Linked DNA regions of Homo sapiens. The protein of the gene in region 1 binds, or shares a complex with, the protein of each later gene. Each region holds a gene or a part of one and is shown in the gene's direction. Other genes may lie near its edges. The genes, in order: ACVRL1 and BMP10.

Region 1 (15,703 bases):
CCGACATGATGAAACCCCATCTCTAGTAAAAAATGCAAAAAATTAGCCGGGCGTAGCTGGGTGCCTGTAATCCTGGCTGCTTGGGAGGCTGAGGCAGAAGAATTGCTTGAACCCAGGAGGCGGAGGTTGCAGTGGGCCAAGGTCAGGCCATTGCACTCCAGCCTGGGCAGGAAGAGTGAGACTCCATCTCAAAAAAAAAAAAAAAAAAAAAAAGGCTTCAGTAAGTAATTAAGAACAATCATGAAACAAATGAAAAAAATCAAAAATCTCAACAAAGAAATAGAATGTCCCAGCAAAATAATAATAAAAATTTAGGAGATACAAAGAACCAAATGGACATTTTAGAACTGGAAATTGCAGTAACTGAAATAAAAACTCATTGGATGAGCGCAATAACAGGGTGGAAGGACAGAGAAAATAATCCTTGAACTGGACAAAAACTGGTTGTTTTGTTTTGAGATGCAGTTTTGCTCTTGTCGCCCAGGCTGGAGTGCAATGGCGTGATCTCGGCTCACCGCGGCCTCTGCCTCTTGGATTGGGGTGATTCTCCTGCCTCAGCCTCCCTAGTAGCTGGGCTTGCCGGTGCCCGCCACCACGCCCGGCTATTTTTTGTGTTTTTGGTAGAGATGGGGTTTCACCCTGTTGGCCTGGCTGGTCTCAGGCTCCTGACCTTAGGTGATCTGCCCACCTCAGCCTCCCAAAGTGCTGGGATTACAGGCATGAGCCACCGCGCCCGGCTTCTATAAGTTTTTTTCTATGTTTAAAACTTTTAATTTCATTTTTGTACTTAATTTTTTTTTTTTATTAAACACACACATTAGCCTAGGCTTACACAGGGTCAGGATCATCATTATCACTGTCTTCCACCTCCACATCCTGTCCCACTGGTAGGTCTTCAGGGGCAGTAATGTGTGGAACTGCTGTCTCCTGTAATAACAATGCCTTCTGGAATACTTCCTGAAGGACTTGCTTGAGGCTGCTTTAAAGTTAACTTTTTTAAAAAATAGAAGATGCACACTCTAAAATATAATAATAAAAAGTATAGGATATTAAATACATAAACCAGTAGCATTGTCATTTATCATCAAGTATTGTTTATTGAACATAGCTGTACATGCTGTATACGTTTCTATGGCTAGCAGCGCAGTGGGTTTGTTTATACCAGCATCAGCACAAACACATGAGTAATGCGATGCGTTACTACGACGTCAGTAGGCAACAGGAATTTTTTGGCTCCATTTATAATCTTATGCGACCATCATTGTATGTGTGGAATATTTTTGACTGAAACTTCATTATGCAGCAAATTACTATATTAGCAAATAAAATTGAGCTATATATAATGAAGAAGTACACATTATAACCAAGTGGGTTTATTCCAGGGATGTAAGGCCTGGTTCACTATTAGAAAATCAGTCAACATAGGCTGGGCACGGTGGCTCACGCCTCTAATCCCAGCACTTTGGGAGGCCGAGGCGGGTGGATCACCTGAGGTCGGGAGTTCAAGACCAGACTGACCAACATGGAGAAACCCCTTCTCTACTAAAAATACAAAATTAGCCAGGTGTGGTGACAGGCACCTGTAATCCTAGCTACTAGGGAGGCTGAGGCAGGAGAATCGCTTGAACCCAGGAGGCAGATATTGCAGTGAGCCGAGATCACGCCATTGTACTCCAGCCTGGGCAACAAGAGCAAAACTCTGTTTCAAAAAAAAAAAAAAAGAAAAAGAAAGAAGAGAAAATCAGTCAACATAATCTACCGTATTAACAGACTAACAAAGAGAAATTACACAATTCGTATCAGTGGATGCAGAAAAGGCATTTGACAAAATTCAATAGCCATCCATGATAAGAATACACACACACACACAAAAGAGGAATGGGGGAACTTTCTCAATCTGATATAGAGTGGCTACTACAAGAAACTTACGGCTAACATTATGATTAATAGATTGAGTGTGTTCTCCTAAGAGAAACAAGGCAAGGATGGCTGTTCTGTTTTGACCACTCTTATTCAACATAATGCTAGAAGTTTTAGCTAGTGCAGTCAGGTAAGAAAAGGAAATAAAAGATATGCATATTGGAAGGTAAGAAATAATACTGTCTCTATTTGCAGATGCAGATGACTGTCGATGTAGAAAATCCCAAAGAATCCATGAGGGGTAGAAAACCCAAATACCTCACCCCCTTGAATAAGTGAGTTCAGCAAGGTCACAGTATACAAGATCAATATGTAAAAATCGATTATATTTCTATATAATTTAATGAACAAATGGACACAAAAATTAAAAATAGCATATCCTGTTTATAATTGCTTTTAAAAAGTATAAGTGTAACAAAACACATAAAGGAGTTAAATGCTGAAAACTACAAGAACACTGATAAATAAAAGAGACCTAAATAAATGGAAAAAAAATATATCATTAAGAATTTTAAGATGGCAATGACAGCGCATTAAACCAAGCATGGGGCCCTGTGCATCTGCACAGGTCACACTCCCATGAAGCCAGCCCCGCACTAGTATCAAGAGTGATGTTTGAGTCTGGGTGGGGTGGCTTATGCCTGTAATCTCAGCACTTTGGGAGGCTGAGTGGGTGGATCAGCTGAGGTCAGGAGTTCGAGACCAGCCTGTACAACATGGTGAAACCCCGTCTCTACTAAAAATACAAACATTAGCCAGGCGTGGAGGCACGCATCTGTAATCCCAGCTACTTGGGAGACTGAGACAGGAGAATCACTTGAACCTGGGAGGCAGACCTGAGATCACGCAACTGCACTCCAGCCTGGGCGACACTGTGAGACTCCATCTCAAAAAAAAAAGAATGATGCTTGAACTTAATACTCATAGCTGGTCCTGAAAGGTGAAGGTGTCCATTGCCCTGCCTTCCTGACAGACTCCATGTCACCCACCTTCCACAGATGAGAATCTGCTTGAGGTTTCACCCCACACAGAATCTCCAGGCCTCTGCTTCCTGCAGTGTTGGGAAATCCTTCTGAGTATCTAAATCTAAATCTTTGTCCTTTGGGCCTGTTTCCTCTTGTTCTGTCCTCACTGAATATGGGGAACAGCTGGTCCCTCTGAGTAATTAATTCTTGTAGACTTGGACACAGTCTGTAATTCCTTTTCCCTTTTCTCATTGGGATGACTCTCCAGGGCTTTCTCCAACTCTGGATCTCCAACTCTGACACCTCCCCCAGGTTCTCTGTGTGCTTTGGAAGGCATGGGGTTCACAAGAGCCCCAAAGAGCACCAGTCAGGGGCCAGAGGGCTCAGTGCTCTGGGGAGATGGGGAAGATTCCAGCACTGATGAACAGACTCCAGCCCCCCCTGGGTCCTCTCTTCCAGCTCCCAAAATGTACTCTATTTTTATCTGTTTCACGAACGCTGGTCCAGATAGTCTTCCATCCCCCACTGACTGTTAGAAGTGACTCTCAGCTTTTGTCCATCTCGAAGTTTCTGTGCTCAGTGTGCCTCTCAGACTAAAGGCTTCCTTTGGGAAGCCCCGACTCTCGCTTCTCAGGACAGAGATCCAGGGGTTGGGGGAGGAAAAGGTTGACCAGAAGCCATAGCGGAGCAGGGAGAGAGAGTGTGAAAGACAGACCCGCGGCCAGGCTCCCAGTTCTCCAGCTCGTAGAGGGCCCAAGTGGCCGCTATAATCTGAAAGAGCAGATATCGTAATCCCATAGTACTTCCTATTGGCTGCAGGACACAGTTCTGTCCTGACACTGAAATTTGGGTGTGTCAGGGTTCTGGGAATTCACAACGCTCACAACTTGTGAAGCAGCTGTGGGGTGGGGGATGGGGAGGGTTTCAGCAGAGGAAGTGAGGTCAGTCAATAATTGATGCCTGTCTGAGCTTTTAGCCATTATCTCCCCCAGCCTCTATTCCTGTCAAAAGGTGGGGCGGGGCAGGAGGAGGGGTCCCTGGCTCATCTTGTAGAATCCCCATATTAGAGTAAGACACCTTAGAGGTCTACTCCTGCTTCTAATACCCACGTCTTTCCAAGTGTCTCTGAGGCCACCCCCTCCCCAGCCTTTTCATTTATTCATTTAATTAACGAACGCCTTCATTGAGGGCCTCCTCTGAGTCAGGCTCAGCCAGCCAGCATCTTTGCTATGAGCTGAGATAAGCATCATTTCCGTCTATTCTCACAACCACCCTATGAGGCTGGCACGGTTTACTATGCCTATTTAGCAGATGGGGGACTGAAGCATGGAGAGGTGTCACTAGCCTACGGTAACACAACCAGCCTGCATTCCTAGTAGGTAGTTTGACTTCAGAGTCTCTGTGGATAACCAGGAGGCTAGGACTAAGACCAGAGTCCTGCAGGTACTTAGATGGTTGGAGCAAAGCAGGGCAGTGAGGTCAGTGCTCCCAGCCTGTGCAGGAGCATCAGGAAGAGTCTGTGTCCCCCTCCCCTGCCGGTATGAAGCCATTCTGCTTCCCTCCCCAGCTGCCTTGTGTCAGCAGAGTTCCAGGGAGGCTCCATTCCCCACCTCTATCTAAAGCTCCATTTGCTGGGGTGGGGGCCCTGCCTGGAAGGGGAAGGTCCAAGGCTGCTCCCAGCGTGTCCCTCCATCCTGACTGTCCCTGGCGGGGCGGGGGTGTCTTTGTCACCCAGCTGCACAACGGCCAGGAAGGGCTCAAACCATCCTCAGGGCTAACCCAAGGCCGTCCTCTGGGCCTGTATACCCCTGTGCTGAGTGCGGATCGGGAGAGGCTGCTGAAGACAGGAGGGGACAAATGGGGGACGAAGGGGCCCGAGGGAGGGGACTGAAGGATTTGGGCCAAGTCGGGAGTTCCCGAGGGCGGAGTCAAAACGCATCTGGATTTTGCTAGCCCCAAACTCTGCCCTCATTGCTGCAAGCCTCCTAGACCGAGGACCCCCGGGCTGAGGGTGGGGTAAGGATAGGTAGTGTCCCTCCCCGTCCCACCCCCGCCTGTCCCTTCCTCGGTGGCCCCTTCCCGGCGCCCCGATTCCAGGCGGCCCCTCCGCTGCTGCCAGCCGATCCCCCTCTACCCCCACCCACTACTCCGGCCGCCAGACGTTGCCTACAGTCTCGGCTCTGTCTCCCACGGCTGTGGGTCCGGACCCCACGGGACCCCTATGGGACCCCCACAGGACCCCCACGGCCTGAGTCCAAGGCCCGCCCCCTCGGGGAGGCGGATGTGGGAGGCCCGGCCCGGGTGCGGGCCAGCGACCCGGGAGCTGCGGGCGGCTGGGAGGGGAGGCCGCCCTGAGGGGCTGGGAGCGGCGCGGGGGTGGGTCCCGGTCCTGCAGCCCCAGCGAGGGGCGAGCGGCGGCCAGTCGGCGAGCTGGGCAATAAGGAAACGGTTTATTAGGAGGGAGTGGTGGAGCTGGGCCAGGCAGGAAGACGCTGGAATAAGAAACATTTTTGCTCCAGCCCCCATCCCAGTCCCGGGAGGCTGCCGCGCCAGCTGCGCCGAGCGAGCCCCTCCCCGGCTCCAGCCCGGTCCGGGGCCGCGCCCGGACCCCAGCCCGCCGTCCAGCGCTGGCGGTGCAACTGCGGCCGCGCGGTGGAGGGGAGGTGGCCCCGGTCCGCCGAAGGCTAGCGCCCCGCCACCCGCAGAGCGGGCCCAGAGGTGAGTCGAGGTCCGCGGACGGGACCGGGTGGCGGGCGGCCTGACCCCCGCTTCAGTGGGCCCTTCCTTCGGGCGGACCCCAGAGTCACCGCAGAGTGGTCGCGGGAGGCTCAGTCCCAGCTCATTAGAAAGGCAAGCTGCTCCTGGCTGACCACGCACAGCTCCCATGACCCTACCTGAGACTTGGAGGGGAATGGACGAGACTGGACTGGAAATCAGAAACTTGGTTCTAGTCGGGTGACCTGGGGTCAGTGACTTCACTTCTCTGTTCTCCTACCCTCTTCATAAAATGGGCAGTGGGATTCCTGTCTTGCTCTACTCACATAGAAGGGATCACACGTCCTCCAGGCCGCTGGGTGGACCTGGAGTGAATGCCTACTTCCACAGCTGTTGAGCCTCCCAGCAGAGCTCACCTTTCCCAGATCAGTCCTTCCAGCTGTTGCTTGAGGAATCTGACACTATCACTCCAACCTAGGAGTCTCACCCTAGGCGCGCATGGTCAGTCACCTCCTTGCCACGACCTTCCTTCAGGATCCAGGCCAAAGGGGATCCCAGTCTCCCCCCAGGCTGGGACCCCAGATTTTTCCATGGAGGCCAGTGCTGTGAAACCCATGGCTGGGCTGGCTGCCCCAGCTCCTCTTTCCTTCTCCAAGGACAGGGGCATAATGGACAGTTGCTCTCACTCTCTCTATGTATGGCCAGCTTCTGGCTGAGTCAGGGTCTGTCCTAATACCTGTCCTCTCACCTGTCCCCCCATTTCATTGGTTTGTTAGAAATAGCTACCATTGATTGAGTACTAACTATGTAGACACTTAGATATATATATTTTTTCTCATGTAATCCTGGCCGCAACCTAGTGGAAGAGGGGTTACTATCCCCTTCCTACAGAAAAGGAAACAGACATGAATATGGGACTTGTCCAAAACTCCTTGGATGGTGGGGTGAATGGCATGGTTGGGGTCTTGATAACATTTCAGTGCTTACTGTGTACTACTTATACTCTGCTAAATAATTGTACTACATTTTACCTATGAGATAACACTATTATTATTCCCACTTTACATATGATGGGAAGCCTAAGCCTCAGAAAGTTTAAGTAACGTCTCAAATTTCATACCTCTAAGTGGCAAAGGCAGGATTTGAACCCAGGTCTCCATGCTCCAGAGCCCACACCCTAACCTCTGTGCTACACTGTGCTGCCTCCATGGTCTGCCTGAGACCTGAAAATCCAGGCATCACCTGGATGTTCCACTGCATCACCCCGCTGTGAAGGGCTAATAAATCACATGGATGAATCGTAAGGGCAACCCAATATGAACAGCTGGGTCTGCTCCTCTGCTGTTGGGGTAAGGCCTACTGAAGTGCAGAGTGAGTCCAGAAGGTTGTGCTTGATATGGCGCTTCTCCAGCCCTGTGAAGATCACTGCTGTGCTGAGCCACTGCCGTTGATGGGAGTAGGTTTTATCAATCCTTCAGGTGTGCTAGGGAGAAAAACATTGATAAGCACCTTTCGGGCATACCACTACTCTGGCTCTCCCCACCTGAGGCTCAGACTTTGACTAAGCCTATGGCAAACAGATGATTTCTGGGCAGCAACACCACCTTTGTTGCCTGGGTCAACATAGTGAGACCCTATCTCTACTAAAAATAAAACTGGGCATGGTGCTGCACCCCTGTAGTCCCTTGGGACTTGGGAGGCTGAGGTGGGAGGATCACTTGAGCCCAGGAGTTCAAGGCTACAGTGAGCTATGATTGCACCACTGCACTCCAGCCTGGGCGACTGAGCAAGACCCTGTCTCAAAAAAAATTAAAAACAAACAAAAACGCTGTCTTCATTTAAACAAATCTGAGTAGGGCACCCGTTAATAACAACAGTAGTGGGCAATTTGTACACGTCCACCGAGACCCATGTCTTTTTCTTCCTTTGAGGGACTCATCTAACCCCAAACAACTGGAGGAATAACAATGACCAAGGAATGATTTATTATCAGCAATTTAAGTTTATTAAGACACGCTCAGTGACTATGGACAAGAAACTGAACATCTCTGAGCCTCACTTTCCCCCGTTGGACTGTTGTGATGATTAAATCAGATAAACCATTCAAGTTCAGTACTTAGCACATAATTAGTACTCAGAGAAGGTTAACTGTTATTATTAAGTATTTCATAGTGTTTAGCTAACGTTTGAAATTAGTTTAACGTCTGTAATTTCTGGCCAACAATAGTGATGCTTCTGTCAGCAGGAGATCTTTCACAAAGTTTTGCTTAGAAGTGAAAGGATCCTGCCAGGCCCCAGGAGTCTGTCTGTGCTACAGTCAGATTTCAGGGTAAATCGTACAGAGTCAGCTCTGAGTTTGGACTGGTCGGGACTCAGCATCCTCCTGTACTTGATCTCACACTGGGTCCAGTTAAAAATTGGACAGTCCCAATTTTACTCCATCACATTCCCAGGATTAGACCATAGATGGGTTCTGCAGATGCAGACAGCCTCGCTCCACAGTGTCACCACGTCCCAGCTTTGGTGTTTACCCTTGGCTGTCCCTTCTGTAGTAGATGGGGAGTATCCTGGGTGGGAGTGAGTGTCCCCTCCCTCTGCATCCCACTCCCACTCACCCAGCAGGGCCCTGTACAGCAAAATGAAAGCAGAGGAACCAGACTTAGCGTTGTGCCCACACAAACTGATCAGAACTCCCTGGGGAACTTTTAAAAAATGCATGTTTCTTGCTGATTCCAGGACTGAATCAGAGTCTGGAGTGAGGGTGAAACCAGTGAATATGCTTTTCTCAGTGAGCACTTCAGGTGATTCTGATGCGTGATAAAGTAGAAGGAGGGTGGACTGGGGCACGGCCAGAGAAGTAGAGGTACGGACAGAGGATCCTAGAGGAATGCCGGATTTTAGCCTTATTGTTAGCCACTTTTTCCTTTCCACCTCAAACCCTCTCCTTTGCAGCTTTCTGGGCTAGCAAAGGCTGCCAAGGATGGCTTCCTGCTAGTACCCCAGTGGGCAGATTCAGCTCCTCTAGGGTGCTCTCTCCATCCCATCCCACCGTCAGTCCTGCCGCACAGTGCTAGCCAGAGTCCTCACTGGCTGCGGGAGGGGCAAGAGGCAGGAGGTCAGGCAGAGGCTGGGGACACAGCTGCAGCAGCCCAGGGCTCTGTTTCCTCCCCCAGCCTGGGCCTCTGGGGCAGAGGAAGCCCAGGCAGGAAGGCCAGGCCTGCCACCAGCCAGAGAGGCCTATGAAGCCCCCCTACCCCACCCCTAGCCATACTGCCCTCAGAGCCTCAGCATCTTGGGTCTTCATTTGGCACCATTCTTAGACTATGGGCTTTCTGAAGCCTCTGTGGCCATGTGCCCAGCCCTGTCAGGCTCACCATGTCATGCCAAAGGACAGTCTCCCTGCCTTGTGCCCTGCCTGAGGATCCAGTCCCCAGACACACACCTGCACATGCTCCACCATTCAGAAAGTCCTGTTGCTGTCTGACCAGGGTCCTTCTTGCTGCAGCTTTAGCCAATATCTTCTGGTTCTAAACCTGTGAGAAATGAAGACTGGGTGGCTTCAGAAGCACTAGTTGGTGTGGGACCTGGATTGGGGACTATCATAGACCAGAATTACTCCCCCTAACACTCTCCAACAAACTTCTGGAAAAGTTCAACCCTAGTCAGCCATGGAAGGTCAAACATTCAGTGTCTAAGTGTGTTTCACTTCCCCTGCCACATCACTGGCCCTCCACCCACCCTTTCCTAGATGGCAAGGGGAAAGAAGGGGGCCAGGGAACAGCTCCGAGAGGGCAGCTTATACTCTGGTGAGCTTGCAGAGAGGTTTCTCTACACCTGGCATGACCCTGCCCCGTCCGAGCTTTGCATGGTTGTTATAGCCCTGAGGGCTCAGACATGGGCTGCCACCACTGGATAGGGACAGAGCGAAGAGAGCACTTGATTAGGAGTCTGGAAACCTGGGATGTACGCCTGCTGGTGCCAGTGAGTCCTGTCTGACCCGGGACAAGTCTTCTTCCCTGTATGAGCCTTACTCCTCTCTTCTGTAAAACAAGGAGCTGGATTTTGTGATTCACAGGATGTCCACCTAGAATTCTGTCATGTGGGTGTCCCAGGCACAAGGAACTAAGGGTAGCAAGGAACTAAGGGCATATTTAAAAAGCCCCTCCAGACCTTGTGGCTGCTGCAGCCCACCCTGAAAATATGCCCTCAGTTCCCTGCTGTGCGTGACTCCTGCCTGTTCTATCCAGACCCCAATCTAAACAATCTTGATTCCTGTTCCTGGCTTGGCAGGACCCTGAATGGCAGGAAGCGAAGACAGGAGCCTGTTTATGTTTGAGGCAGCCAGGGCTGGGGGGGCATTGAGAAAGGGTAGGCAGGGGTGGAAGCTGTGAGGGAGTGGGAAAGAGACACAGAACAGAAGGGGAGCTGCTGGAGAGATGCTCCTTCTACCCCAATTGGGTGCTCCCTGCGGCTCTCCCAACCTGCCTGCAGTCTGAGCTCAGCAGCAGGAGTGCAGAGCTAGGGTTTCCCCAAGCTCTCAGTCACTTAAACATTGCTCTCCACCCTTCACCTCTAACAGGATGGTTTCCATGGGGAAGTGAACCAGGACTTCCCCTGCAGGCCCCGCCCCAAAGCCAGGCGGCAGGGAGTAGGGAGGCGGCCTCCCTGCCTCCCCTCCAAAAAAAACTCTGTGATTTCCTCTGGGCAGGAGGGAGCCACGGCCAGCGGCTGTCACACTTCATGGCTCTTACTCCACCTCTCTTGCTCCTCTCTGCAGGGACCATGACCTTGGGCTCCCCCAGGAAAGGCCTTCTGATGCTGCTGATGGCCTTGGTGACCCAGGGTGAGTACTGGGGGAGCAGTTAGGAAACAGGAACCTGGATACAGAAAGGGCTATCTGGGCCCAGATCAGCTCTGCCTGGGGCTGAACTTGAGAAGCTGGGGAGAATGTAGGAGCTTGACTGGAGAGTGGAGGACAGTGAGGCTCCATTAGACTCAGTCCCCAGCTACCCCAGCCCTCCTTTGCTCTCCTCTTGATCCAGACCTGCAGGCTGGAGCTCTGTCAGACTAGGGTGGAAGCCTATATGTGGGGTGGAGGGAGAGCAGGTGTTGGCAGGCCAAGCCTGGGAGAGCACTCAGGGCTGGGGCTGGGGGCCCAGCCCAGCCTAGAACTGGGAGGGGAGGACCTAGGAGCCAGGAGGGGACAAAAGCCTGCTTTTCAGAGTGTCAGCTGCTCTGAGGGGAGGGTTCTGAGGGAAGGATGACTGAGGATGAAAGTAAGAGACCAAAGCTTCAAGGTGTTTGTCTGAGGGGTCAGACGAGAGGGACAGTAGGACAGAAATGGGTGTCGGGCTCAGCCTGGGGGAGCTGGGACCACAGTGGCTGAGCTTCCGGTGTGTCTTCCAGGAGACCCTGTGAAGCCGTCTCGGGGCCCGCTGGTGACCTGCACGTGTGAGAGCCCACATTGCAAGGGGCCTACCTGCCGGGGGGCCTGGTGCACAGTAGTGCTGGTGCGGGAGGAGGGGAGGCACCCCCAGGAACATCGGGGCTGCGGGAACTTGCACAGGGAGCTCTGCAGGGGGCGCCCCACCGAGTTCGTCAACCACTACTGCTGCGACAGCCACCTCTGCAACCACAACGTGTCCCTGGTGCTGGAGGGTACGTCCAGCTGCCCTAGCACTCCCTCCCCATCTTCTTGGCCCCTGCCCTCCCTTCCCTCCTTTCCTCTCATGCTCTGGCCAATAAAGGGGCTGGGGGCGGGGGAGCGGGTGGGCAGGACTCTGGGATCTAACTGGCAGAGTGGTCTGGCCCGAGGTGGGGGGAGCTGACCTAGTGGAAGCTGAGCCTCAGTGTCCCCCTCCCTCAGCCACCCAACCTCCTTCGGAGCAGCCGGGAACAGATGGCCAGCTGGCCCTGATCCTGGGCCCCGTGCTGGCCTTGCTGGCCCTGGTGGCCCTGGGTGTCCTGGGCCTGTGGCATGTCCGACGGAGGCAGGAGAAGCAGCGTGGCCTGCACAGCGAGCTGGGAGAGTCCAGTCTCATCCTGAAAGCATCTGAGCAGGGCGACAGCATGTTGGGGGTATGGGCCTGGGGACCTGGGACACAGGGTGTAGGAGGGGCAGATAGGAACTGCAGAATCAGAGGGGTCACCCAGAGATTAGAGCCGGTGGGGAGCTGGGCGAGTGAGGAGCTTGCAGTGACCCAGCAGGTCCCAGGTCGAGGATAGAGAAGGGGGCTGTGGCTGGTTGTGGCAGCCTCTCAGTGGCCTCTCCGTACCCCCAGGACCTCCTGGACAGTGACTGCACCACAGGGAGTGGCTCAGGGCTCCCCTTCCTGGTGCAGAGGACAGTGGCACGGCAGGTTGCCTTGGTGGAGTGTGTGGGTGAGCAGTGGGTGAGCCCGGTGGATGAGGACCAAGGGCTCTCATGAGCCTGGAGGGGTGAGGGAGTTTTTGGCTACTGGAATCACAGGCGGTGCCAGGCCTGGGTCAGAATTGGAATTCTGCTGGGCAGGGAGTGGGCTGGAGACGGGCCAGGGCTAGGTTCTTCTTTCTGCAGGACCGGGGTGGAACGAGAGGCAGCTGGGGGTGGCCTGCCACTGGGTTTGGGTCTGGATTAAGTTAAACCTAAGGGTCTGGGGTTCTGTGGGTGGGGTGGGCGAGGGAGGCAGCGCAGCATCAAGATGGGGGGCTCTTCCAGGGCTCTGTGTGCCCAGTGTGTAACCCTCACCTTCCCCTCTGGCCATCAGGAAAAGGCCGCTATGGCGAAGTGTGGCGGGGCTTGTGGCACGGTGAGAGTGTGGCCGTCAAGATCTTCTCCTCGAGGGATGAACAGTCCTGGTTCCGGGAGACTGAGATCTATAACACAGTGTTGCTCAGACACGACAACATCCTAGGCAAGGGGAGAGGCCAGCTGTGCCAGGCCTGGGGCTTTGCCCCCCTGCACTCAGGGCTCAAGTTTGCAGACCTCCAGACATTAACAGAACCCTGAAGGACTCTCAGCCCACCTGCAGCATCAACCTCTTTTTTTAATTTAATTTAATTTAATTTAATTTAATTTAATTTAATTTAATTTTTGAGACAGGGCCTCGCTCTGTCACCCAGGCTGGGATGCAGTGGTGCAATCTCACTGGAGCCTCAATCTCTTGAGCTCAAGTGATCCTCCCACTTCAGCCTCTTGAGTAGCTGGGACCACAGGCATGTGCCACCATGCCCAGCTAACTTTTTTATTTTTTGTAGAGACGAGGTCTCCCTATGTTTCCCAGACTGGTCTCAAATTCCTAGGCTCAAGCAGTGCTCTTGCCTTGGCCTCCCAAAGTGTTGGGATTACAGGTGCAAGCCACTAAGCCAGGCCCAGACCCAACCTCTGACTCCAGCTCTGTCTCTGACCTAAGCCACATCAACCCCCACCCCCAGACCTAGCTTAGCAGTGACCCAGTCCATTCCCTCTCCCCCAACCCCACCCTGACCCTGACGACTCCAGCCTCCCTTAGCCCCAGCCCCTTGGCTGAGTCACCCAACCTTTCTGCACACAGGCTTCATCGCCTCAGACATGACCTCCCGCAACTCGAGCACGCAGCTGTGGCTCATCACGCACTACCACGAGCACGGCTCCCTCTACGACTTTCTGCAGAGACAGACGCTGGAGCCCCATCTGGCTCTGAGGCTAGCTGTGTCCGCGGCATGCGGCCTGGCGCACCTGCACGTGGAGATCTTCGGTACACAGGGCAAACCAGCCATTGCCCACCGCGACTTCAAGAGCCGCAATGTGCTGGTCAAGAGCAACCTGCAGTGTTGCATCGCCGACCTGGGTGAGCCGGGCGGGGCAGGGGCGCGCCCTTCACAGGTGGGCGGAGCTTGTGCGCTCTCCTCTCCTTTGCCTGTGGGCGGTGACCATGATTAGCACTTGAAAATTTAGAGGTGCATGTTGTTTCAGTTCTCCTCCGCAAGACCCCACGAGTTGTCTGAACACCCTTTTCAAACCCAGATTCCTTCCACCATACCATCCTGGCTCCAGGAGTTGGGAGAAAGGAGGCAGGAGCCAGGAACCTGGGTTCTCATCCTGGTTTCGCCAGCCTCCAGGTCTGCTCTGTGAAGTGGGCTCATAATGCCTGCCTTGCCCACTCACATCTCGCTGGGTTCTTGGGAACCTAGAGAGCACTACACAAGCAAAGAGTACCTGGGGCCATGGTTCTCTCTGTGGCCACTGCCTTCCAGCCCATCTCCGTGCACGTCTCCATCTGCCTTCCCCTCTCTGTCCCACTGTTTCTCTCAGTCCCCACCTTGCCTGCCCCCTGGATCCCAGGTTTGGGAGAGGGGCAGGAGTGACAGGCCTCACCCCCACAGGCCTGGCTGTGATGCACTCACAGGGCAGCGATTACCTGGACATCGGCAACAACCCGAGAGTGGGCACCAAGCGGTACATGGCACCCGAGGTGCTGGACGAGCAGATCCGCACGGACTGCTTTGAGTCCTACAAGTGGACTGACATCTGGGCCTTTGGCCTGGTGCTGTGGGAGATTGCCCGCCGGACCATCGTGAATGGTGAGGGCCCACCCTACACAGGGTAGGGAAAGGGGAATCAGCCTGTGGAGCCAGGGGCTTCCAGCCATGGCCAGTGCCCATGGCCTGGGAGGTTTGCAGTCAGACCTCCTGGCACCCCTTCCATGCTGCCCACCAGCTGGTTCAGCTGAGTGACCTTTTAAGGTATAAACCTTAAAAACAGATAACAGGGTCTGTGAGTCTGGCTGTGAAATCTTGGGTACATGATAATAACAGAAATATTAATAGCAGCTAATATTGATTGAGCTTAAATATGTGCCAGATGCCATGCTATGCACTTTACATGTATTATTTAATTCTTTGGTATGGACAAGGCAGTGGTATTGCTTAGTGGCTAAGAGCATAGGCTTGGAATCAGACTTCCTGGGTTCTATTCCTGATCTTGCCATGACCGTGCGTAGGTTATTTGACCTCTCTGTGCCTCAGCTTCCTCATTTGTAAAATGGGTGCGATGGCTCATGCCTGTAATCCCAGCACTTTGGGAGGCCGAGGCAGGCAGATCACCTGAGGTCAGGAATTCAAGACCAGCCTGGCCAACATGGCGAAACCCTGTCTGTACTAAAAATACAAAAATTAGCTGGCTGTGGTGGCACACACCTGTAATCCCAGCTACTCGGGAGGCTGAGGCAGGAGAATCACTTGAATCTAGGAGGCAGAGGTTGCGGTGAGCCAAGATCATGCCACTGCACTCCAGTCTGGGCGACAGAGTGAGACCCTGTCTCAAAAAAAGAAAATTTATTAAAATAAATAAATAAAATGAGAATAAAAATAGCTTCCAGTTGTTGAGATAATCTAAGTATTTAGAACAGTATCTAGAGCTAAATATTAGTGGCTGTTATTGTTGTAGATAGAATGAGTGCCTGACATCATATTGTCCCCATTTTACAGTTGAGGAGACGGGGGCACAGAATGACAGTGGGCTTGAGGCAGCATCAGGGTCCGAAACCGGGCAGTCTGCCCCGGGGCCAGTGCTCATCATCACTGTGTGCACTTAAACCTCTCTGGCCCTTGATTTCCTCATGCACGCAATGCATGTGAGTGCCTGCACTGCCTGCTTATTGCTGCCTGGTTGTTACTGTGGGTTGCCACAGGGGACTCTGATTTAGAGGGACTGCGACAGGTAGAGAGACCTGCCCTGGGCAGGCAGCCCTGAGGTCGATGTTCTCTCAGCCCTGGAGTGGACGGAGGATAGGTGGGTCGTCTAGACTGGTGGGAGCATTGTCAACCTTTGAGGAGGCTGTCCATGGTGAGGGACTTCCAGGAGTCGTGACAGGTTGGGGACAATCCTCAGGATATGGCTGGAGCCCTGCTTCTTGGGGACAAGGATGTCCTCATTTCCTGAGCATCTACCAGGAGCCAGCCCCATGCCAGACTTCATTTGTCCTCGGTGGTCATCAACTGAAAACAGAGGCTGTGGTGTCACCGGTCCCTTGGGGAGACTCACGAGGTGCTTAGATTCCTCAAGACTCCGGGCATGAATTGCCAGAGTGGGCTCTAAGGAGACCGGGATCGGGGGAAAGAGGAACCTGGAAGAAGCCAAGGCT
Region 2 (15,703 bases), on another chromosome or scaffold:
AATTTATATAATTCATTTATAGCTATTAACTTAAACTTGGAAAGTTTGGATATTTGGTCTGTCTTCACAAGTGTTTATCTGAGCCCTACCTCTCAAATTAACATGTATCACCATTGATGTGCATTATGTTGATTCTTATACCTATTATATGCATGTGTGAAACTAAGCCCCATAAAAACAGAATTTAGGCATTCCTGCTGAAAGGAAGTGAATTGAAGGGAAGAGAAGCAGAGCCTTTGCAAAGAGAAAATTGTCCTATCTCTCAACCAGTGTCAGAATGTGGAAATGTTTACAAAATGCTCATTAAAAGAAATAGGGATTGCAAGATAGAAACAAATTCTGGTGCACAAGTTTACACTAGGGAGATAAGAAAGGCTAGGCCCCTATAGGGGATTTTGTTATCCAATTACTGCAACCTGACTTTTAGGGGGAGAGGAAGAGTGGTAGGGGGAGGGAGAGAGAGAGGAAGAGTTTCCAAACTTGTCTCCAGTGACAGGAGACATTTACGTTCCACAAGATAAAACTGCCACTTAGAGCCCAGGGAAGCTAAACCTTCCTGGCTTGGCCTAGGAGCTCGAGCGGAGTCATGGGCTCTCTGGTCCTGACACTGTGCGCTCTTTTCTGCCTGGCAGCTTACTTGGTTTCTGGCAGCCCCATCATGAACCTAGAGCAGTCTCCTCTGGAAGAAGATATGTCCCTCTTTGGTGATGTTTTCTCAGAGCAAGACGGTGTCGACTTTAACACACTGCTCCAGAGCATGAAGGATGAGTTTCTTAAGACACTAAACCTCTCTGACATCCCCACGCAGGATTCAGCCAAGGTGGACCCACCAGAGTACATGTTGGAACTCTACAACAAATTTGCAACAGATCGGACCTCCATGCCCTCTGCCAACATCATTAGGAGTTTCAAGAATGAAGGTAAGTTTTTGCTGATGAAATTTTGCTAGGATTTTTTTCAAGACACAATAAGTAAATTTACAATGCATGGGAATGATATAGGTAAGGGTAAATACATCTATATAAGGATGTTAAATACATATGGATACACAAAAACAAGGCACATTTTGTTCTATACCAATTATATAGTCATTTCAGGAACCTCGAAAAATACTTACAAACATCTTTTAATCCAAAGCCACAAAACATCTATCAATTTGACATCATAATTGGGTCCTTTTAAAAAATGTTAATTTGAACACCAAGTAATACAAAGAATTAATGTTGGTCTACTGCCGTACCTTTGTCATTTTCCAAATAGGCCTTGATTGCCATATGGGCTTTTAATTAACTAAAAAATTTCTCAACTTCTACTTAGAATAAAAAGGGTAAAAACAGTCAAAAAACATCAAATTGTGATTTGTGTTTTGTTCAAACTTTTGATAAGTTTTTATTTTGTGACCTTATTTAAGAAATGTTCAAACAGGATGGAAATATATTTTAAAGATTCTTCCTAAGGCTGTGTTGTTTGATGTGTCATGTACATCCTTAAAGCACTGTTTACAGTTTCCAGGAAGTGTAGATGGCCCATTAATCATCCAGCTCATCATTTCCGTCTTTATAAAGAGCAACGTACAAGCTTTGAATTATTGGTGGGAAAAGTGTGTTTTCTTCTCTTAGGTCTTTAAATTTGGTAACTAAATCTAATGAGCTAGCAAGTTAATGTTTTTGTTTGTTTGTTTGTTTGTTTGTTTTTTGGTTAATATGGTCCTAGTAGGAAAAAAAACCCCTGATATCTAGATATCTATAGTAGAAGCTGAAGGTCCAAAGGAACTAATTTAATTTTTGCCAGTTATGCTTTTATAGTCACTAACCAGGTATAAAAGAAGCTTCCCGTTAATATTGGCCAGATGTTCTTGAAAGAAGAAAGGTAATAGTGAAGAAATAGCTCAGGATTTGGGATTTTGAGAGCTAGTTGGCTTAGTGGTTGTGAATAATTAGCTGATGCCTCAGAGCCTCAATTTCCTCATCTATAAAGTGGGAGTAATAATACCTACATAACATAGTTGAGTGACTCAAAGGAGGTTACAGATAAGAAAGCACTCCATTTACTATGAAGTGCTGATCAAACTTTAGTGACTACTAATGAGTTACTTAATATTCTAGGTACTGGAATAAATGTTGAGTAGGTATTCCTTAGTCCCTAAGATATTATCTCCCTTTAAAATTGAGTTGGCTGCCAAAATTTATAATTCATAATATCTTTCTCATGGAAATGGCAAGTTGAGATTACAGATTGCTTTTGGAGGTGAGTCTGAATTGAAAATGAACAACTTCCTCCTGTAAGAACCCTCCCTAATACTTCTCAGCACTGAGCCCTAAGTGTCTGGCTCAGGGTGTGGGTGAGAAAATGTTGTTTGCATCCCCTGGAAAACTAGAAACGTTTTCCGTTCTCACTTCTCTCATAGAGTATCTGGATGATCCAGGTCAGGATGTGGAGTTTACTGTGCTTATTATTACTGGAGATTATTGAGGGCAGGAACACATCTCTTAGTAAACAACCCAGCCGCCAGCACCTCTGCCAGTCTGCAGGAAATGTGCAGCCTGAGGACAGAAATCGCACAGGACATGCCCTGTTGGCTACTATTGCCTCTCTTCTGACTCTTTGGATCTGCTTAGTGCAGCTCCCTAGGAGAGAAAGACCAAAAAAACTCCAAACCTACCCCATCTTGGGAAAAAAAAGTGCCACCTCCAAGGTGAAAAAAGCGTGCTCCTTTATCACCTTGTCATTTGGGGAAATCAGTTATCTGCATCAAGGCTTGATTTATTCTGGTGCAAAACGAGTAGAGAATCAATACCTGCATTATGGGGTCATTGTGAGAACCAGAGAAGATCATGCTTGCAAAGCACCTGGCATGAGAAATTTGTCAACAAACATTCGTTCTCTTGCCCTGAAATGTAACTCTTCCATCTATTGCTTACTGCATTTGCACATGCACAGAACTTCACAGTGAACTTACTTTTTCAAAACAGCTTTATTGAGGTATATTTGACTTATAAAAATATGACATATAAAAATATTGATGTATAAAAGTATAATCGCACATATTTAAAGTGTATAATTTGAAAGGTGTTGACATATGTAACATTCATTGAAACCATCACCACAATCAAGATCATGAATATATCCATTAAAACCAAAAGCTTCCTTGTATACTTTGTAATGCCTTCCTCCCACTACAGTGAGCTCTTATTTTATACTTTTCTCCTGGGTAGAGCAACCAGCCTACTCTTCCATGTTCCCTGTCCATGGGGAGTCAAGTCTCTTCCCTTCTTAGAGTGGAAGAATAACTCCCAAGCCCAACCCAAGAGCTTGATGATGGATTAAGGTCATATGTCACGCCCATAAATCAATTTAGTCTGGTGCCTAGAATCATCAACTAATCAATATTTTTAAAGCACTACCTCTGTTTAAGCCATCATAGTAGGATAGAGACATAGAAGGGAGTTTTGAGCCATTCAAACCAGGAGGATGGCAATCTAGTTGGGAAAATCCATTCATAAAAAGATGGCTGAAATATAAGGACGTAAATGACAAGGATCAAAGGAGATATAAAGTGATCAAATGATTTCAGAGGGGAGAGGAGGGAACTTTCAGATGAGAAGTAAGGGAGGCTTTTATAGGAGATGTCAGAGCTGGATAGGTGGAGGTGAGGTGAAAGGGCTTTCCAAGGGTCAGAAGAACATGTGAAAAGGTGAAAATTGCAGGGAAAAAAAGAGTGTTTTGACAGGTGGTAAAGATATCAATGTAGTTAAAACAGAAGGGTTTACAAATCCATTCAATTGTTCACAAATATTATTGAGTAATCACAATGTTCCATGCACTGTGGAGGACGTATGTAAGCTATGGCTGATCAGGAGGTTAAGACCCAGATATAGCTGGTCTTGAGAGCCATGCCAGGGAGTTTAAATTTATTCTGTAGGTCAGCATTTCCCACTAGCAGTGTGTAAGATTAATTTAGGTGGTACCCAAAGAAAGCTATTAATCATGTGAAATTATTGTATATTTTTCTTAGTATGGATTTTTAGCAAACACACATAAATATCACCTCAAATCTCTCCTTTAATGAATTATGTTGCTTAGGAACAGTCTAAAATAGATAATAAGTATAAAATAATTAGATCAAATTAAAGAAAAATATTAAAAGATTATAATCTGAAACAGGGACTCACCGAGATCATGAACTAAGTATAAACTTGGGGAAATGCTGCCAATGATGACAGAGAACCCCCAGTTGGTGGTCCTTAGCATCTTCGGTGCCATGGAGTCCTTTGATAATCTGATGGCAAATGCCTTCAGGGCTTCCTTGTAGACTCATTACCTGAGGCAAGTGTGCAGGAGCTTTGGGCTCACTGTGAAATATTCAGATAGGAAGTCAACATGATCGTATTTGGAAGTATGCTTCTAAGACTAAAGGACTTTTACAGAGTTGATTCATAAACATTATTGAGTGAGTTATACATGTCACGCCCCATGCCAGGTGCTAGGGGTACAAGACTAAGGCAACCAATCTAGTCCCAGGATTCATTTTCTCCCATTCCTCTTTATAGAGAACCATATAACCAGCAGTCAATTGCTGAGACCCTCTTGGTTTATGGCTGTCTTATTGGCCTTGTCAGGCTTTGTTGCCTAGAACAGAAGTCAGCAAGTTTCTACTGTAAAGGGCCAGACAGATAATAACTATTTTAAGCTTTGCAGGCTATATGTTCTTTGTTGTATCTATTTAACTCTGCCATTATAGTGCAAAAGTAGCCACAGACAATACAAAAACAATGGATGAGGCTGTGTTCCAATAAAACTTTATTTCCAAAAGCAGGTAGCAGGCCCATATTGGCCCATAGGCTATAGTTTACCAACCTCTGATCTAAATGGAGGTCTTTTAGGAAGACCAGTGTCCAGCCAACTGTGCGGGGATCTCCACCCACTACAAACACAAATATTAAAAAACCATGAAGTCCTCATCCCCGAAAAGCTTCAAGAAAGGAACAATCACCACATGTCCCATTTGGTGGCGTTTTGTTTGTTAGGAAATTTGGGGACTTGCCCACACAATCTCCAAGGTCCCTCCCAGTTCTGTAATTCTGTGGCTGATGAGCTATTCAAGCAAGGTTGGCTGAGTTTTATGCCATCCATTAGACCCCCATTTTCCATTTTAGTCTTGGCAGCTGAACTCTTTTGGGCATTCTACCACTGACCTTTTGGGATTTCCTGTGTCACAGAATGCTGACATTGTGTTTGTTCTCATTGATTTTCTCCCTTCATTCTTTCTGCATTAAGCTTTGTGCATGGGAAGGCCTTCTTATTACATAAATAAGCATCTGTTTTTCCCTGAGACCCACTGCAAACCTGATTTTTGCAAATTTCTTTTTTCAGATCTGTTTTCCCAGCCGGTCAGTTTTAATGGGCTCCGAAAATACCCCCTCCTCTTCAATGTGTCCATTCCTCACCATGAAGAGGTCATCATGGCTGAACTTAGGCTATACACACTGGTGCAAAGGGATCGTATGATATACGATGGAGTAGACCGGAAAATTACCATTTTTGAAGTGCTGGAGAGCAAAGGGGATAATGAGGGAGAAAGAAACATGCTGGTCTTGGTGTCTGGGGAGATATATGGAACCAACAGTGAGTGGGAGACTTTTGATGTCACAGATGCCATCAGACGTTGGCAAAAGTCAGGCTCATCCACCCACCAGCTGGAGGTCCACATTGAGAGCAAACACGATGAAGCTGAGGATGCCAGCAGTGGACGGCTAGAAATAGATACCAGTGCCCAGAATAAGCATAACCCTTTGCTCATCGTGTTTTCTGATGACCAAAGCAGTGACAAGGAGAGGAAGGAGGAACTGAATGAAATGATTTCCCATGAGCAACTTCCAGAGCTGGACAACTTGGGCCTGGATAGCTTTTCCAGTGGACCTGGGGAAGAGGCTTTGTTGCAGATGAGATCAAACATCATCTATGACTCCACTGCCCGAATCAGAAGGAACGCCAAAGGAAACTACTGTAAGAGGACCCCGCTCTACATCGACTTCAAGGAGATTGGGTGGGACTCCTGGATCATCGCTCCGCCTGGATACGAAGCCTATGAATGCCGTGGTGTTTGTAACTACCCCCTGGCAGAGCATCTCACACCCACAAAGCATGCAATTATCCAGGCCTTGGTCCACCTCAAGAATTCCCAGAAAGCTTCCAAAGCCTGCTGTGTGCCCACAAAGCTAGAGCCCATCTCCATCCTCTATTTAGACAAAGGCGTCGTCACCTACAAGTTTAAATACGAAGGCATGGCCGTCTCCGAATGTGGCTGTAGATAGAAGAAGAGTCCTATGGCTTATTTAATAACTGTAAATGTGTATATTTGGTGTTCCTATTTAATGAGATTATTTAATAAGGGTGTACAGTAATAGAGGCTTGCTGCCTTCAGGAAATGGACAGGTCAGTTTGTTGTAGGAAATGCATATTTTCCTCTCCAGTTAAGTCCCTTTCAATCTGTTTTCTCTTTGGACTTGCCATTTCCTGGCAATGCCACCTCCCTGTTGATTTGAAAACAACCCCTAGGCAAAATACAGTGTCAAAAGACACACACTTGTGTATGTATATTTGTACATACATGAACTTACAAAAATCTTTTGGTTCTATGCAGGCAGGTTATACTCATCTACATGCATGACTCACTCAAATGTATGCATATTAAAGGCCAATGGTATGTTCTCTGTTACCTCTTCTCTGAGTAGGATTTAAGTCAAGATAATTGACATCAGGGTTTTAATCATCCTAGGAAGTATTACCCTTCCTAAATACTCTGGAAATGTAAGTGTAGCTTTTGTCAGTTGAGTTTCTGTAGTTGCTCAGAGAGGAGGGGCCTGGCAAAGGATGCTTGAAGGGAAGGGTTAATTGATACAGAAACCAAATGGACTTAAGAGGTCTTAGAGGTACAACAGGAAAAAATGAACCCATGGAGGACCAATGTGCTCCAGAGGGCAACTCCTGGTCAAGGCAGGAAAACAGAAGAAACCAGCATGAAATCTGTTCCTGAGACAATAGGAAAGCAAGGCCATGAGTACTGGCCATTGCTGCTGCAGAGAGTAGAGGGGTTGGGAGGGTACTTGAAGGGGAGAAAGGGAGAAAGGGAAGAGGATATTGATGTTATCCTCAGAGGCTATCCTCAGATGTGTCTGTAAAACCAAAAGTGGTTCTGTTTAAAGAATTAAATCTTTTGGACAAAATAGAAGTATCAAAGACTAAGAGGAGGAAAATCAGAAGGGGTCTGTCTGTTGGAAGAAAGGATGTTAATATCTTTCTTCACCTGTTAACACTGTTCCCTTGTCTCAGCACCCCTGCTTTCCTCTGCTCCATCTTCTTCCTTCCCTCTTTCTTCTTGGCCCTAGTGCCTCTCACCTTCCTCCCATCCCTGTGTCCCTGCTCTTCCCTGGCCTTCATGATGCATGCTGTGAACTGGAAAGGGACACCTAAGTGCCTTTGCTCTCAGGGTGAAAGGAGTTAGTGTTCTAATTTCTAAATCTTCCCGTGATATTTAATTTGATTTTATTTTAATAATATCCTTTATCAAATGTTTTGTTCATGAAGAATACTTAGATATAAGAGAAAAGAAAACCAGAATAAGTAAGTATAAGAAAAAGAAAACCAGAGTCCAAATGAATGGATTTAAATAAACGAATTTATGAATAGACACACAAGCAAATGACTCAAAAGCCAAGCCTGAATTTTGAAATCATGATTGTTTCATGGTAGAAACCCAGTAACTTTCCCATCTTCTCATCTTACCATCTTCCCATTTTGCAACTGGCCAGGACTGAAAGTGGTGAGGAAGTGTTCTGCACAGGAAGGGTCCGGTGGGTTTTCCTGGCAGGTGGCAGCCTCCAGTCTTAACCCCTAACCATTTCCCTCTACCTGGCAAGCATATTCTGGGCTTTGTGCAGGAGGAACCAGAGCAGAGCAGAGCAGTTTCCAAACTGTTCCAGCATCTCCAGGCAGGGAACATGGATGGTTCCTGTTAGAACCAGGAATGTGGTTTCCAGTACGTCATCCCCCATTCACCCCTACTCATCTTAAGGAATGCTTCCTTAAGAAGTCTGACACTTTTTTCTTTTTTTTACCCTGGAAAACAATCAGTCCCCTTTTACAAATCTCTTAAGGTTATAAACTCAAACTGCACTAGACAATAGAGGCAAGGAAAACTATTTTGAAGAAGGCCCAATTTGAACCTCAGCTCGCTAGATCTGTTGTCTGCTGGGTGAATCCTGGGGAATTCATTGCTCATGGAAGAGTGGTGTTTTGACCGTCAGTGGGTATACAGTGATTGATGCTTTGAGAAAGCCATGCAACTCAGAATCACTATTTGTGGAACAGCCTCCATATAACATGATGTGTGTATGTGTGTGTGATGTATAGCTGGCTTTGAATAACCACGCTTAATACCCTCAGTGGAACGTGGTGCATCCTTCATACTCCATGGTACACAATGTATACTCACATACTCCAAGGTACTTCTTATCCTTTCTAAAGGACACTGTAATACATACACAGTAAAACCTCAGCTGACCAGGATAGTCCTGGTTAGATAAAAATTAAGCAAATTTTCTTTATGTCTAATACATATGACAGTGGTGTGCTGGTAAAACCCTTACAACCAGCAATCCAGGGGGAGAAAAAGCCCTGATTTGTGGATTTCAATGCTGCAAACGCTCCTACATGGTCTATCTTGAGCTGCCAAGGTGATGTCAACTGGCTTGCAAAACTTCTAAAACCTAAGTCAGCTCTTGGGAGCTGTGCACTGGTGCTGGCACACCGCTGACATTTAGTATCCCACTGACATTAGCACACCGCTGACATTAGCACCCTGATACTAGAATGTTAAGGATGTGCCAGCCCTGCTTTCCACTGTGTGCGCTGCTGGCTCCGGGCTTCTGGAGAAATCTTGTCTCGAGCACTTATAGTCACTCTTCTGTTAAAGAGATATGAAAATATAGGCTGTTGGCGATCAGGCTGCATAGCCCAGTTGTTTCTTTCTGCCCATCCAGATGTAAACCTGCATTTCTATGATTTTCTGCTTCCCTGTGGAAAGGGAGTGCAGAGAGCAACATATTGTTATTCAAATGTTGCTAGTTGTATTTTTTTGGCTTTTTGTCAGAAAGTGAAAAGACACAGCCCGTAGAGGAGTTCTCCCAGCTCCCACCGGAACCCCGGCAGCACACCGGTGTCACTTTCAACTCCTGCATTGACAGGAAGCCAGAATATTGTCAGATCCTTAAAAAGGTAGAATCTTACTAATGTTTCTCTGGTCATAGACCTTCTTCTGGGTCCCATGCCAGTTTTTTTCCCCCTTTTATTGCAGAATTATCATCACCGAAGTTGATATAGCTAAACAACTCTTGAGGAGAATTATAGCAGAGGGACTTGGGCAGCCCACAGCCAAAATATTCATGTAAGAGTTTCTAGGCTTCCCACTATTTATTGATTGATATATTTATTTTTGTAAAATATTGTAGAATACCAAATATTTTATTTTTATGTCTGTGATTCCCTTTTGGATAGAGAGTCTTCTGGGCTTCAGAGTATGGCTCACATATAATATATGGCCTGTATTTCCATCTCTCTCTTTTTGCATCAGAATATTCTATTGGTTTAAGGAATCTTGCCATAGCTTGCCATAATTTTGTATATTTGTGTCTTGCAGGCATGCTGTGCCTACAAGCATGCTTTGTAGTATATTTTCTGATTTGTAAATAGTACAGTTTTAACTGAAGTGTAGATGTTCCAGGAAATATTTAACCAATACATTGTCATGCAGTTTCATAAAGTGATGTTGTCAGTTTATCATGAGAAGCAAATATTGTCAGGCTGTGAGAGAATGTGATTGCTACTCAGTAAACGGAGATGCTATTTAAATGAATCTTTTCATCCCCCAAATCTGGTACTTCCCCTCTGAATTCACCTGTTGCCGTCACTGACCCAGAAATTCAGAGATGTGATTGGTCAAATTCATTTGTAATTGGACCAATTACTTTGTAAATGTCAAAAATGTTAGCTTAGTGATTTCCAAAAGAGTCAGCCCCAAAGTGCCGAATTCTTTCCTGATGTGTAAATTTTGGTCCGGGGAATTAATGACAAAAACCTTTTTTTTTTAAGAACTGTTACTAAATGTTTCAGTATTTGTTATGATTTATATTCTTCAAGTAAAAGATATTTTCATATAAGAGAATTTTATGTATTCTTCTTACTTGATTCATCAACAGATTATGAAGCCTAGCAGTGTTCTGGCAAAACCTTTTTAACTTGCCTAGAACACAGAAGGGATGTTGCCCTTTTTAAGGTTGTAGATCTTTTCAGAGTCACTGTGGGTCATTCTCAACCCTTTGCAGTTCTGCAAGCTCACATATGGTGCAAGAGGAAATGCTGGTATGACTCTGTGCATTTTCTTGCCCCCAAACAGGAACAGTTGATTTCCTACATTAAATGGAAGGTAGATGTGACTATGGAAGAGAAGTACACAGGGGTGTTTCTGCATGTGAAATATTTGTCATAAGTTAAAAACCCATCATGGAATAACTGTTTGTTGTGATCAGCATGTTTTTATCACACATGGGCACTGGTTTTGTGAGCACCTGGCTTGATAGTGGTGGGGCGGCCAATGTGCCAGCGCCCGCCTACTGAGCATTCATGGACATTGGAAATCAGCGAACACCACAGACACACCGAATCAGCTGATGCACGGTCATGTTCTGGGGTAAAACCTGTTCATTATCCATGTCCACATTTGTATAGTTATCACTAGACTAAAATGAAGATGGAAATAAATATTTTACCCTGTGTTCATGAACCAAATGTGTACCTTCAGAGTCTTTTTAAGTAAAATAAAAAAATTATTTTGGTGATAATTATTTGCAGCTTATTTTTCCTTGAGGTAAGGTATTTAATTTTGCACACTCCCCACTTTTTCATGTTTCTACTTGATAACATATCCCGATGGAATAAAACTAATTGCTATATTAATAAAGAATGGTCTGAAGAAACCATAAGTTGTTTTTGGCTTGTAACTGACCTCAGTAGGGAGTGGGATTTTGTAGCTCCATGGTTCTCCCACTTTATATGACTTTGTGTAATTCCCATTAATGCCACAGGCATTCACAGAAAATACAATTGGCTCCCTTTTGTCAGTAGCTGGGAAATATTTCTTCTTTGAATACCAAAGGAGGCAGTTTAGAGGTAACAGTCCTGGCCAACAGACAGACCTTGCTGCTTTTTCACGAAGGAAATTCATTCTTATGGCAGAATGTGGAATTTGAAGGGCATAGGGACAGCCCCAGGTAGAATAAAATCTCTTCCATCAGAAAATCATCCTGCATCACTTTTTTTGAGGGGACGCCTCCAGTGTCTCAGCTGGCAGGCTGAATCTGGCAAGTGTGTCGGAGGGAAGCACAGCCTTCATCCCTGGATGAGCACTGATAAGGTAAGACAGGGCTCTCCCATGGAGGAAAGGGAGCTGAGAGCCCAAGATGGGGCTGAGCCCAGGACTGGACTAAACAGACCTGAAAAGCCACTCGTGTAATTTGATTTTGAATTCTTTAGCAACCTATTCATTCTCTTCTTTAAATAAGTCCGTTTATAAAAGTCTGTCACAATGTGGGGTCTGGAACCCATCTCTGCAATTGGTTTGACCTGATCACAGCTATGCTGGACCAGCCGCCTTGTTCTGTGATTTCTTTCCTACTGATACAGCCTGGAATTGCACTAGGCAGACACACAGCTGCAAGTTATTTGGGGGGTAGTTTGTTTACAAAGTAAGATAAAAAATTATTTTCAAAGCTCACATTATACATTTATAATATGTTACAGGTTCTAATAGTATTCCTGATGTGAACTGAACTTTGTGGTATGGGGAAATCATGCCATGAGATCTCTGCATGTGACTCCAGTCACATGAATGAGAACCCACTTTTGTATAGAAGTGACTATTTGTAAATAAGGGGCCTATTTGGAGAAGGTGAGAGCTTGTTAACTTGGGTGGTTTAAATGGATTATGTGATTATCTCCAACTCACTCTCCTGAACTGTCAGTTTACAAGAAACAGCTCCTGCCCTCTCTTAACCTTCCTCAGACCATTCACACAGATCTAAAGTAGCTCATCTCATTCCAAGAAGAAAGCCCAGAAATGCATAGACAACGCAATACGTTTTTACTCTTAAATGTGATTCTGTGAATCTTATAAAAAATTTAGGCCACTCAGTTCAAATTAAGATTGATGGGAGGTGTGAAGTACCATTGTCAACTCAAGATTTGCTAGAAAGTTTTCACACACAGAACACTGAGCCCACTTCCTTGCACAGCATGGGAATGGTTTTAGAAAATTTAGTTCTAACTCCTTATTAGTATCTCACCTAAAATGCGTACCATAACCTTACTAATTATGAGGAAACATCAGATGAACCTATTTTAAGAAGATTCTGCACTCTTAAAAAGTCAATGAAAGGCAAAGAAAGATTGAGAAACCGTTATAGATTTAAAAAGACTAAAGAAGCATGACAACTAAGTGCAGTATGTGGTCCTGAATTGGATCCTAGACCCCTCAAAAACTGGCCAAAAGCACATTATCTTTTTGTTAAGTCCACTGCTGCCACAGCTGGTAGAGAGTCCAACTTCATCCATTGTATGCTCTCAAATGACATTCATTTGTAAAAATCTTCTGCATGGTTATTGCTCTTTTTCTGAAACTGTGAGAAGCTATACAGGAGTAACTAGGCTTTTGCTCAATGCAATGTCCAAGAAGCAGGCAGACAGCATTAAAAATGAAACCTTTCTTTGCTCAGTAGCCAAACTCAATGCAAGGAACAGAGCTGAAGGGAAATTGTTCATCACATGGCAAACCTGATGTTAATAAATGAGCTGCAATAAAACATTTTCCTGAAATAACCAAACTCAACATGCTTTTCAGGCAATAAGCCATCTGTTTCAAGTGTTTAGAAAACGGATCTCCAATCACTGGTAATTTAAACTTCCTTATACCCCAGTTCAATGTTTGATAAGGAAAGAGTGCTAACAGGATGGAAACTGAGTTACTATATTAAGAAACCCAGCAAGAACAAAAACCAGCCCCCTGCAGCTATTTTGTTTATGCTCCAGACCCATCTGTTTTAATTAACGTAATATTTACATGAGACCAGCTCCTGTTACGTCTTTTGCTGCAAATATCGCATGTTTTATTCTTTGTTGTTGTTGTTGTTCTTGCTTTTAAAAGAGATCCTGCAAAAGCACAGTTGCAGACTATGCCTGAGCGAGGTGTACACCGGGGAATTACACCTGCATTCTAGCTCCCCAGGTCCAGGCTCACCTGCTTTGTGCAGTTTGGGGTCAGATATCAGGTTGCCAGATGAAATACAGGATGTCCAATTAAATATGAATCTAAGATCAAACCATGAGTAGTTTGTTTAGTATAAGTCTGTCTCAAATGTTGTACAGAACATACTTATACTAAATAATGTTGGTTGACTACCTGAAATTCAAATTTGGTTGGATGTTTTTATCTGCTAAATCTGGCAGCTTAAGTCAGGTATTGCTCAGAAGGTTACATGAGTGGAAAGATCCAGAGAAAGATGAAGTCGTTTGCCTTTCCATGCCTAGAAGGGCTATTCAGAAGATGACTAATCACAAAGCATTAATTTGTTTACACTAAACAAATTATTCTAGTAAGGTTCATCATTGAAGAATAGCTTTGAGATTTGAAGTGGAAATCCCCTTGACCATGTCTGCCAATGCTAAAAACAGTAGTAACACCCCAAAATCATCATCCCCAGTTTATACGTGAAGAAATTGAGTCACAGTGAAGAAGGCATACTCTTAGAGGTCATTCAACCAGGCAGAAGCAGAAGTAGGATTGCGAACCCAAGCAGCTCACTTCCAGCAATCAAGCCCTTCCCTGCTCTGCCATGCTGCCTTCTACTTAAAACCACAAAAGTAGTGAACTTTCACATCCATTTTCCTACAAAATCTGTCAACAAACTGGAAACCCCCAAGCTTTAGCCAGGCGACACTGAGTGGGCCTCATACCTCAGGATCCAGGCTGCCTACCATACTTCCATCCCTCCCCTGGGGCTTTTTCCTGTCTCTTGCTTTCCTTCCCTCTTTGGAGCTGTTCTTCACTACTACATCTTTAAGAGTTTTCTCCCTGCAATACAGGTGCTTCCTCTTCCTGCCCTTTCTCAATGTATGGGTCCCATAGGTTAAGAGCTCACTGAGAATTCTGCAGAGATAGACACGGAGTGATGACAAGGACAGAGCAGAGTCATATGCACAGGTTGGATAACCCTATAGAGACCCTGGGGCACTCATTTGGTCTCTGAGTCCTCTCGGCTCCTCATCAGAATTGCCCAGACATTTCTCTCAAGGCTGGGAGCCTAGAAGGTGTTGGGTGTGAGACCAAGATGCTCAGCCCACAGCTCAAGGAGGAATCAGGCTGACACTGCTGGCTAATCTCATGCCCCAAACATTCTGCCAGGGTCCTGGCCAGCTATGTCTTTTCAGGATTTTCCCCTCCCTCTCTTATGAAATCTGTCTGTCAACTAACTGGAAACTCCCAACCCTTAGTGAGGAGACATCACATGGACCTGAGAGGTTTTTCTTTCCTCCTCGACCCCCACTGGGGAAGAGGCATGTTTCCCCAGAACTTCAGAAGATTCTCAACTGAACTGACTGACATTTTCACTACCTTTCCTGGGAGTCTTTCCAACACCGAGTCCTGAAAACCCTACCCTCAAAGATTCTCTTTTTTTATGTTGACTTCACCTATTTTAGATTTTGCTATATTCATTAAAAGTGAAATTCCTGGAGAAAAGGCTATGCACATTTAAAATATATAATTCTGAGAGATACTACCAAAAATGACTCTCCAAAACTTTACATCAAATTATAATCCATCAGCTGTGTATAAGAGTACTATTTCTACAGTTTCCAATATTCAATACTATTGCTTTTCTCAATGGACCCTGTTATGGATTGAATTGTGTTCTCCCAGAAAGATATGTTGAATCCCTAACCCCACATACCGTAGAATGTGACATTATTTGGAAATAGGGTCTTCATAGAGGTAATCAAGTTAAAATGAGATCCTTAGGGTAGACTGTAACCCAATATGACTGTTGTCCTTACAGAAAGGGCAAATTTGGACACAGAGACAGTTGGAACACAGGGAGAATGCCATTGAACATGAAGGTAAGGATTGCAGTGATGCTCCTACAAGTCAAAGAACACCAAAGATTGCCAGCAAATCACCAGAAACTATGGGCGAGGCATAGAACAGATTCCCCCTCACGACTATCAGAAAGAACCAACCAAGCCTACACCTTGATCTTGGACTTCTAGCTTCTGAAACTGAGAGATGAATAAATTTCTGTTGTTTAGACCAGTTTGTGATACACTGTTACAACCGGTCTGGAAAATTGTTACAGATGCTAAGTACAATAATTCCTTGTTATACATTTATTTCTTTAATGATTTAAATTGACTTAAAATTAAAATTTAATTATTTAATGATTGGTGAGTTTGAACATATTTTGACATATTTCCTGACCAGTTTTCTTCATTTCATAAATAAACTTTTCCTTTTACCCAGTGTTCATATTTTTCTAGCTAATTTGTTGGAATTCTATGTATTATGCACAATTAATCCTTTGTTATATGCTATGGATAG

The links.
Region 2: the proteins of ACVRL1 (region 1) and BMP10 are in contact, whole or in part, in a crystal structure (PDB 6SF1), measured with the Homo sapiens proteins. Residues at the interface, in NP_000011.2 of Homo sapiens: His40 (codon at 11,063), Val54 (codon at 11,105), Val56 (codon at 11,111), Arg57 (codon at 11,114), Glu58 (codon at 11,117), Glu59 (codon at 11,120), His66 (codon at 11,141), Gly70 (codon at 11,153), Asn71 (codon at 11,156), Leu72 (codon at 11,159), His73 (codon at 11,162), Glu75 (codon at 11,168), Leu76 (codon at 11,171), Phe84 (codon at 11,195), Val85 (codon at 11,198), His87 (codon at 11,204); in NP_055297.1 of Homo sapiens: Tyr322 (codon at 6,003), Asn357 (codon at 6,108), Tyr358 (codon at 6,111), Pro359 (codon at 6,114), Ala361 (codon at 6,120), Glu362 (codon at 6,123), His363 (codon at 6,126), Pro366 (codon at 6,135), Thr367 (codon at 6,138), Lys368 (codon at 6,141), Ile371 (codon at 6,150), Leu375 (codon at 6,162), Leu378 (codon at 6,171), Lys379 (codon at 6,174), Ser381 (codon at 6,180), Lys386 (codon at 6,195).

The regions. Positions count from the first base shown.
Region 1 is NC_000012.12:51,902,093-51,917,795, forward strand, and holds the start of ACVRL1 (activin receptor type-1-like isoform 1 precursor), read left to right. Parts: upstream 1-5,411; 5' UTR 5,412-5,603; intron 5,604-10,290; exon of another isoform or gene 10,291-10,377; 5' UTR 10,378-10,382; coding exon 10,383-10,443; intron 10,444-11,006; coding exon 11,007-11,258; intron 11,259-11,466; coding exon 11,467-11,678; intron 11,679-11,881; coding exon 11,882-11,981; intron 11,982-12,346; coding exon 12,347-12,493; intron 12,494-13,132; coding exon 13,133-13,408; intron 13,409-13,943; coding exon 13,944-14,141; intron 14,142-15,450; coding exon of another isoform or gene 15,451-15,606; intron 15,607-15,703. UniProt on the Homo sapiens protein: Type I receptor for TGF-beta family ligands BMP9/GDF2 and BMP10 and important regulator of normal blood vessel development. On ligand binding, forms a receptor complex consisting of two type II and two type I transmembrane serine/threonine kinases.
Region 2 is NC_000002.12:68,856,242-68,871,944, reverse strand, and holds BMP10 (bone morphogenetic protein 10 preproprotein), read left to right. Parts: upstream 1-547; 5' UTR 548-586; coding exon 587-920; intron 921-5,373; coding exon 5,374-6,314; 3' UTR 6,315-11,036; downstream 11,037-15,703. UniProt on the Homo sapiens protein: Required for maintaining the proliferative activity of embryonic cardiomyocytes by preventing premature activation of the negative cell cycle regulator CDKN1C/p57KIP and maintaining the required expression levels of cardiogenic factors such as MEF2C and NKX2-5.